Linked DNA regions of Homo sapiens. The protein of the gene in region 1 interacts with the protein of each later gene in a pairwise test. Each region holds a gene or a part of one and is shown in the gene's direction. Other genes may lie near its edges. The genes, in order: DGCR6 and FH.

Evidence for each region.
Region 2: the proteins of DGCR6 (region 1) and FH interact in binary tests that used the Homo sapiens proteins (3 or more experiments, as listed by UniProt).

Annotation. Positions count from the first base shown.
Region 1 is NC_000022.11:18,909,182-18,912,756, forward strand, and holds the end of DGCR6 (protein DGCR6), read left to right. Parts: intron 1-798; coding exon of another isoform or gene 799-917; intron 918-990; coding exon 991-1,091; intron 1,092-1,706; coding exon 1,707-1,847; intron 1,848-2,358; coding exon 2,359-2,508; 3' UTR 2,509-2,907; downstream 2,908-3,575. UniProt on the Homo sapiens protein: May play a role in neural crest cell migration into the third and fourth pharyngeal pouches.
Region 2 is NC_000001.11:241,497,094-241,503,052, reverse strand, and holds the end of FH (fumarate hydratase, mitochondrial), read left to right. Parts: intron 1-482; coding exon 483-610; intron 611-2,462; coding exon 2,463-2,616; intron 2,617-5,082; coding exon 5,083-5,225; 3' UTR 5,226-5,450; downstream 5,451-5,959. UniProt on the Homo sapiens protein: Catalyzes the reversible stereospecific interconversion of fumarate to L-malate. Experiments in other species have demonstrated that specific isoforms of this protein act in defined pathways and favor one direction over the other.

The DNA of each region.
Region 1 (3,575 bases):
ATTGGGGAAGGCTGTAGGCACAGCTGGAGCCAGGCTACCTGCAGGGGAGCCTCAGGGGCCGTGGAGTTCCCTGGAGACTTGCCACCAGAGAAGAGCTGCAACATCAGGGCTCTTCCCAGGAACAGAGTGTTGGATTTCACGTTTTGTTGTGGCCAGGGACCCCTCCTTCCTGGGGAACTGTAGCCATTTGGCACTTAATGCACTGGCGCCAGCTGCGGGGTGCTCCATGTTCCATTTTGCCATGATGGTTTATGTCCCATGATCGCTTCCTCTGTACACTCCCTTCAGACTAGAGTTTGCACATCTGTGTTTGTGCACAGTTTAGCAGGGACCGTGGAGCTTTGCTTGGTGGCCGAGGGTGAGCCCCTCAAAGCCACACAGACTCCCTGGCCCAGAGCCTCACAGGCTTATGACACCCCAGGTTCATCCCAAACTTGGGCCTCCCAGGTCAGCTCACCCTTCTCCCTCTGGTGCTGTGTAGGGGCTGGGAGCTGCAAATGGGGGAGGGGGCTGCCCACCCTGAAGGGCAGCACCAAGGGTGGAGGGGCCAACCACACACCTGGTAGGCAGAGGCCCCACGCTCAGGGTCAGCGACCCGGCTCCTCCTGCTCCTTTCCCATGCCTTTGCCTGAGGTGGTCTCCAACACTTGAGTAGATGTCCTATGGCCTGTGGCCACGGGGGCCCTGAAGCCCTCAGACTGCAGCCTCCCTCCCGCCTGCCCCCTCCAGCTGCCCTGGGTCTGGGGCTGCAGCTTTGGCCCCACCTGGCCAGTCTTCCCCACCCCCACTCTCTTTCAGTGCCCCGCACCTTCTGGAATCCCCTGGAGACTTGCCGTGACAGTGGGGTGGGAGGATGGAGGAGGCTGGCGTCCTCCCCAGTGCAGACACCCCTTTGGCCTGGCTGCTCTGCTGGGTTGGTAAGGCAGGTGCCCATGGGTGAGGGCTGCTGCCGAGTCCCACCGCCTGCTGACGGGCTCTCATCCCTCCCAGTGCTCAGGCAGGCGCTGCGGCAGAAGCACCAGGAAGCCCAGCAGGCCTGCCGGCCCCATAACCTGCCTGTGCTTCAGGCGGCTCAGCAGCGAGAACTAGAGGTACTGGGGACGCAGGCAGGGTGGCCGGCCCAGCTCTCCTGTGGGCACCACCTGGCTCTGCTGACTGGGCTGAGCTGAAGGGGTGTGGGGGGCTCAGGTGTGGGTGGCTACCCTGGGCCTGAGTGGGACACTGGAGGCCTAGTGAGTCCCACCAGGTGGCTCCTCGCTGAGGGTGCCAGGTGTGCTGGGACTGGGTGGAGGGTGAGAACCCACCAGTGCTCCCCTGGAGTCCATTAGTGCCCCTCGTGGGTTGGGGTCTCCGCAGAGCAGGTGGCCTCGGGGGGTACAAAGGCAATGGTGGGGTGATGGGGCCAGCCAGGAAGGGGCCCATCCTTCTCCCCGGGAGCACAGGGACAACCAGAGACCGGCATGTAACCAACAAGTCATGGGGCAGGGTGTGCCTGCGGAGATGTGTGTGTGGTCCCAAGGCAGTCCCAAGTCAAAGCATTCGTGGAAGCCCCTTGGGGCCCCCTTCAGGGGTTCACTTGGCCGAGGAGAGGCCTGGGTGTGGTGAGGATGCATTGGTGGTGTCAGAGCTGGTGCTGTTGGGGACAGCAGCAGGAGCATGTGTTTGAGCTGCCCTCACCTCCCCCGCCGCCCCCGGCCCCACGGCAGGCGGTGGAGCACCGGATCCGTGAGGAGCAGCGGGCGATGGACCAGAAGATCGTCCTGGAGCTGGACCGGAAGGTGGCTGACCAGCAGAGCACACTGGAGAAGGCGGGGGTGGCTGGCTTCTACGTGACCACCAACCCACAGGTCAGTGCCTGGGCCTGCTCTGTCCTAGCCCGAGTGCCCCTGGGCCCCATTCCATCTGGGATTTCACTGCTGGTCCCTGGGGAGCCAGGCTCAGGGTATAGGGGGTGAAGTGGAAGGATTGAGGCTCTGGAAAGGATTTCTGTGCCATTCCCAGCATGGAGGCCAGGCCCATTCCCTACAGGGGGGTGAGCCAGCCAGCCATGGGCACTGCCCACCCTCCCCAGGCCTGCTGTGCCCCACAGGGCCCTCTTCTGCTCCCCTCCCGCATGCCATTCCAAGTGGCCCTGCTGGGTGCAGAGGCTCAGATTCCGAGTGGCCCTGCTGGGGGCAGAGGCTCAGATTCCGAGTGGCCCTGCTGGGGGCAGAAGCTCAGATTCCACCCTGTCGTAGCAGGCCATGACCAGGCTTCACAGGATGGTCGCCCCGTGGGCTCACTGCCTGGCACCTTTGGGCCGGGATGAAAGGGGCCTGGGGGTCACTCTGGCCTTCATGGGGCCCCTCTGTATCCCAGGAGCTGATGCTGCAGATGAACCTGCTGGAACTCATCCGGAAGCTGCAGCAGAGGGGCTGCTGGGCAGGGAAGGCAGCCCTGGGGCTAGGAGGTCCCTGGCAGTTGCCTGCTGCCCAGTGTGACCAGAAAGGCAGCCCTGTCCCACCATAGCCACAGGCAGCAGAAGTCTGGGCAGAGTTCATCTTCTTGACCTTTGGCCACTGCCTTCCCAGCTGCCCGCAGGGGGTTCCCCCTGCTGAGGAGAGACCAGGTGGACCCCAGCTGCCTGTCACCCTTCATCTGGGACTTGCTGTCAAACCCTAGGATAGTCTCATAAAGGGGAGGCTGGGCCAGCCTGCTGCTGTCTGCTTCAGGGCCAGGCAGAGAGTGAGGCTGGGGGTTCTCACACCTTACTCCACCGGGCACATCCCAACCTGCACTGGGGCCCACTCGAGCGCTTGTTCTGGTCTCAGCCGCTCCCTTGGCAGCTGCAGCCCCCATGCAGAAGAGGCTCCCAGGCCCAAGCTCTGTGTGACCCAGAGAAATAAAGATGCCTCAGTGTGGCCCGCATGTGGCTTGTGTGATAGCTGCAGGTTCTGCCATAACCGGGGCCCTGGTAGGGCCCCCACCTCTGTTGCAGCAGAGGCCTCTACCTGGGGGCCCCTTCCTGGGCTGTGTGCCCAGCCCACCACCCCTCCCCCTGCCTGGAGACTGGGACCCTCCAGCCTTTCCTGCCCCAGCCCTGGTCCCAGGATGCTGTCACTGCCATCTGTACAGGGGCCCCCATCCAAGCCCCAGGGCATGAGGACCACATCCAGCCTGCTTTGTGGGGCTGGGGGCTGGAGAGCATGGGAGAAGGCCCGAAGTGCAAGTATGCGCCTGCCGCAGCCTGGTCAGTGTCCTGTGGGAACCACTAGGAGGAGCCTGATGCAGGTCACTGGGGTAGAGGACTCAGGGTGGCAGGAATGGCCTGAGGAGGAGCCCTGCGGGGAGGCGTGCCAGGCCCACCTGGGGAGCTTGGCCTCTGCATCTGCATGAGTCCCCTCCGTGCTGGCCTGGGCCCATGGGCCCTGCTGGGTCCTTGTGGAGTCAGGGTTGGGGGTGTCCAGCACCCTGGGTGGCCAGGTCTGCGCAGGGCCTGGCCCCCAGGAACAGATGATGCTGGAAGCCAGAGTCTGGGATGAGACTTCTCTGACCCTGTCTGAGCCACTCCCTCTTTGTTGCCCAGAGCTGACCCT
Region 2 (5,959 bases), on another chromosome or scaffold:
CGTGATAAATAGGAAAATTTTAGCTTAGCATCACCTTCCCCTAGGAAGCCTCCCATGTGTTAGTGAAGGGTCGCTTTTATAAGTGTTCTGATAGCAGCATACACTACTCTGTATTTACCCCTTATAATTGCCAGCTCTTTCTCCCTAGCCTCCAAGTTCTGCGAGGGCAGGGCCTGCATCTTTCTTATTCAGTGTTGTATATTGAGTGCCTGGCTCCATAAATATGTATAGAATGAATGAAAATCATGAAGGTGGAGAACTATATTTAATGTGTAGTTGTGGCTACTCGTTAGCCTTTGAATGATTCATTTTGTGGCTACCCATCCCACCTTCCTTGGTTGGTTTGTTTCATTAAATTACACTGATGGTTGGGCCTTGCTTTATTGTATATCTTACTCTATTTAGTGAAATTAGATTTCTTTATTCTCCTGATTATTTGCATAAATTTAGTCTTTACTCTGTCATTGGTGGTTTTCTTGAAGGCAAGGTGAACCCTACTCAGTGTGAAGCAATGACCATGGTTGCAGCCCAAGTCATGGGGAACCATGTTGCTGTCACTGTCGGAGGCAGCAATGGACATTTTGAGTTGAATGTTTTCAAGCCAATGATGGTAAGCTTTAAATCTGATTTTTAATGTTTTTTGACCAAAGGCTTATTATCTTGGTTTTGTATTTCATAAAGACTTCTAGTGATTCCACATTGGGTAGTTGGGTGACATAAGTAGCAGTTGGAAGTCAAGCATTTATTAAGTTACCAGAATAATCCTAGATAATAGAAATTAGTTGACTTTTAACCTAAGCAATTTGATGTTTTTTTTAATAGCCCGTTTAAGAAAAATAAAATGCCTCCCTACAAGCCTGTCTCCTTCTCATGCTGCTGCTTTCTTCTTCAAATTCAGTCTTCTTGGAAGGATAGCACATACTCACTTTCATTTATGCTGTAGTCACCACAGCCCAGCATGGCCCCCTCCACGCTTGAATTATTCTCCCATTCATTGGTGACTACCTCAGTCCAGCTGGCATTGCGCAGTTAGTTCTTCCCTTACTAATAGTTGATGTTGACTGTCCCTCCTTGAAACATTCTTCATCCCTGCTTTCTTGAACATTTTTTCACCAGTTCTTCTTCTGCCCCCTGTCAGACTTCGTTTCATTGTCTGGCTTTACCTTTCCACATACTTGAAAACATTGTGTCCACCCAAACCGTTCTTTTTCTTTCGTCTTTACGAAGATCGATAGATGCATCGCGCCATTTCTCATCAGTTTCCTCAGCTGCAGATAGTGGAGCTGTTGCCATAATTTAGAGTCCTTCATTTGGACAAAGTGTTATAGCTAAAGTAGAGTAGGGGCTTACTTTCTCTTGGAATCTCTTCTAAATTCTAATTTTAATTTTATAAGAATATGCAAATGACAAATATGGAGTATATTTAATATATTCACTAAATATTTATTGAGTACCATTTTCTATCAGGCACTGTACTGGATGCATAATAGAGATAGAGCAATGAAAAGACAGATTTCTTGCTCTCATGGAATGTATATCCTAGTGGTAAATAAAAACACAGGCCAGAGCAGAACTCAGACTGTTAAAATTTTGCTCTCAGGTCAGATTCCAAACAGTTAACACGAGATACCCAGCATTTATAGGTGCATAACAATAAATGCCTTGTTAATCTTTTTAAAATTTTATTTTTAATGTAAAATAAAGATAATCAATATTTGCCTTATTACAAGGTCATTAGTAGCAAATTAAAACTTAGATTATATGTCTTAGAGTCCATTGTTGGAAGTCTAGTTTTCAGACCGGAGTTTTAGACCAGAGGATATTAGGATTTGGATATATCTTAATAAATATTGGAAATGTTGCCAACAAAGCCAAAACAAACTAATTGATTTTATACTGTTTTTTAATATTATATGAAAAGTTATTTTACAGTGACTGGAGTATTCGTTAAAGCATAGAAAACCTAGAAATTTGGTGATCATTAGATTTTGCCCTGACTTTACTAATTGCCTCACACTCATACTGAACTTTCGAACCTCTGCATCTTTGCTCCTCTTCCTTCTGCGTGGAAGATTCTTTTTCCTTCTCTGGCCAAGTCCTCTCCATAAAATAGGATTTCACCAGTTCCGACAACTGGAGTTAATTTCTCTTTCTCTATGGTCTCTAACACTTCAGACCTCTGTTTTAAATACTTGCTATGGGCTATTTTGTGTTTTAGTCATTTGTATTTATGTCTTTTTCACCTTTTTTAGATTTCTGTGCCTTCAAATGTTCATGCTTTCTTTCACATTTGTTTCCTTGGTTATAGTGCCTTAAAATTTGTAGAAGATCTATATGTTTATTGAATTGTATATTTACTGTCAACCAGAAAATAATATGTTATTGGACAAAAAACATGTTGCCTTAGTAATGTCTCTCTCTCTCTCTCTCTCTCTCTCTCTCTCTCTCTCACTCACTCAAAGATTAAAAATGTGTTACACTCAGCCAGGCTGCTGGGGGATGCTTCAGTTTCCTTTACAGAAAACTGCGTGGTGGGAATCCAGGCCAATACAGAAAGGATCAACAAGCTGATGAATGAGTCTCTAATGTTGGTGACAGCTCTCAATCCTCATATAGGTAAGTGTTTAAGGAATAATAATATCATTTTGAATGCAAAATTAAAAAGCTAAACCATTTTTAAGAGACAAGTGGATCAGTGTTTGAGAACAGCAAATTTCTTTTGAATATGGTTTTAGTAAAATCTCAAAATATTTGAAATTGTGTGGAAAGGTACTATATAACTTGTATGGTGTCATAGTTCTTTCAAAACTAGATCTATTATGCCTCATTTTATTTGAAATGTATCGAGAAGTAGTAGTTCAAACTTATTTTGATTTTAATGGAATTCAGACGCCAAATATTCTATGCAGACCATTGGGGAAGGTTATTTGTAAGACCTTCAGTGGGTAATGTCACTAGGTGGCACTGCTGATTAGCAACATTGAATGAACTCATTTTTCTACCTTCCCTAGATCTCTACAATGCTTTAATTTTGTTGTTTTATTCAATTCAGAAATGGAAAGTTACAATTAAAAGAAAAAGTTTATGTATTCATTGCTTATAGTGAAAGGGAGGAAGGAAAATGCAAATATTTTGTCTAAAACCATGCTATTGTATTATAAGTCTTTTTTGGAACTGTAAATATTTCATTATGTAGAATCAAACATACAGATTTGGGTAGTAGACTGACCATAGAGATCTCCATTAAATAAACTGTTTACACTTTTGTAGATTTTGAGGCATTATGTTGCATTATATTATGATGTGTTAAAAGCCTTTTACCCATTCTTCCTTTCTGCTAAGCAGAGGTTAATATATTTTCTGCCTTTCTGTTATAGAACAAGTTATGATTCACTTATTTGGCATAATATGGCTACTGCTTCTTCTATAATCTTGAACTTTCAAGGCAAATTTTATATTCCTGGTTTCACATCAAGCTATAATTACAGTTTTTTAAAATTAGAGCTCATTTGACTCTTTTAGGTAGCTCTGAGCCCAGTATGATATCAGTTTTTTGGTGTGGCATTGAGATTGGTAATAATGTTTGATCCATTTAAAATTATGGTACATCAACTACATCTGGAAAAACACAAAGGGGAACCCAGAGGCTCGTGTGAGCAGTTTTCATCAGATCTTTACTTCAGAATGTGTTACCAAAACTTTAAATTAGAGGTGTCTCCTAAAGTTGAATGATTGGCAAATCTTTATTGGAATCAACTTATTGTGACATAAAAAGAATTGTTAGAGGCCATATGAGAATGAGATGGGTCAACACCACCTCACTAGTTGACTTGGTGTGAGCCTTACAACCCTCTGAATCATGGGTTCCCTATATTCTCATTATGTACCAGGCTGGTTGCCAATAGTGTCTTGTTGGACTTGACAGCTGAAATGCTTAGACTTTAAAGCCATTATTAAAATAAAAGTACTGGATATATATTGATCTCAAGAGTTTAACATGCAAATTCTTTCTCAAAGCATTTCTGCTTTAAGAAAGATGCCCTTTTCAGTAAATGGCATCAATAAATGCCCTTTCAGATCAATAAATGCCCTTTTCAACATATTTAGCATTCACAAATTCAGTTAAGTAATAAAAGTAACTATGCCCATGCTTTCTTTTATAGCTGATTAATAATTGCATATTGACACATGCCATCTTATTGATGATGTATACTGCCTCAGCAAGCTTCTTCCTTTTGGTCATATTTCTCTGATCTTGTTTTTTTTCTCCCGCATTGGTTTCATTTTCATTCCTGCTTTTTCTTCTTGACATATATATATATATATATATATATATATATATATATATATATATATATGTTAAGACAGCTTGCAGAACTGCCCTGCCCCCACTTTTATTAATTTGAAAAGCAAATAACTCTGAAGTAAACAGTATGCCTGTGATCTTTTGTGCAGTCTGTATTTCTGCCCAGACTCCCTATTTGTGTCCCTGTAATGTCTGGGAGGAGGCCAGGGTATAGAAGCCATTGCAGTGGAGAGCCACATAGAGAAGAGCCATTGGAAGCAGCTCTGGAGGCACCCCTCCCCAGGCCCTGCCTGCGCCTGCCTCACTGCGAGGACTTCTCCCCTCTCAGAGCCACTCACCACAGTTGCCAGACGTGCAGTGCTTTATTTTCTGCTGGACTGGAGCATTTAGCTTGTTAATGTTTCTTTAGAAAGATAATTGTTTCTAGTTAAACATGTTGTTTGAAAAATATACCCAGATGTATATTTTTATGTCGTGGTGCTATAATTTCTACTTTTTTCCCCTTCAAAATATCTAAGTTACTGGAAAATTTCAACTTAGGAACAAATCTGTTGGAGAAAGTGAGGTATGTTTAAGTGTTTATTTCTTAAGGAAAGTAAATGTTCTACATAAAAAATGATTATTGAGATAATCACTGTTAACTAATTTAAAAACAAAAAATGTCATTTAAGAGGCCCATATAGCATCAATATCAAGTAAACAATTATGTCACCTTTTGCTTTAGGAAACCAAATATCACTGCTAACCCATATGTCGTCTTTTTATTTTTTCTTCAGGGTATGACAAGGCAGCAAAGATTGCTAAGACAGCACACAAAAATGGATCAACCTTAAAGGAAACTGCTATCGAACTTGGCTATCTCACAGCAGAGCAGTTTGACGAATGGGTAAAACCTAAGGACATGCTGGGTCCAAAGTGATTTACATAAATTTATAATGAAAATAAACATGTATAAAATTTAAAAAAACAGACTCCCATTTCTTAAAAACGGATAAGTTTGAAAGGAAACTGCTATTGAACTTAAGCATCTCTAGCAGAGCAATTTGATCAGTATATAAAACCCTAGGATGTGCTAGGTCTAAGATGGATTAAACAAGTATAAAATAAAATACATTTATAAAATAAAAAGGAAAACAGACTTAAATTTTCTCCTATGTTAATTGACTTGTATTATAGTTGAATCTATGATATTTGTGCATGTTGTCTTTGTGACTTCATAAGTTACCAATTTCTAAAGGGTTTTAATTTTGGAGGTTATTGGTGGTTTAAAAAATTGCCCGATTATATCTTATTATCTCATTCCCAAACTATGTCCTTAGCCATCTTTTATTTTCCTTTGATTTGGAGACACAGTGACCAAGCCCTTTTGAGTGGGGATGTGTATATGTGTGTGTGTGTGTGCACGCACGTGTGTGTGTGTGATAGAATAGGTTAAGAAAATTGGGACATACATATCCTGTGTGTTAAACACACACCTATCCCTCCAACCTTGTTTCTGTTACCACAGAGGGACCAGATCAAGGCCAGGCATGGTGGGTCAGGGACACCGACTTTAGGAGACTGCGCTTTGGGAAACTGAGGCAGAAAGATCATTTGAGCCTAGGAGTTTGAGACCAGCCTGGGCAGCATAATGAGATCCCTATCTCTACAAAA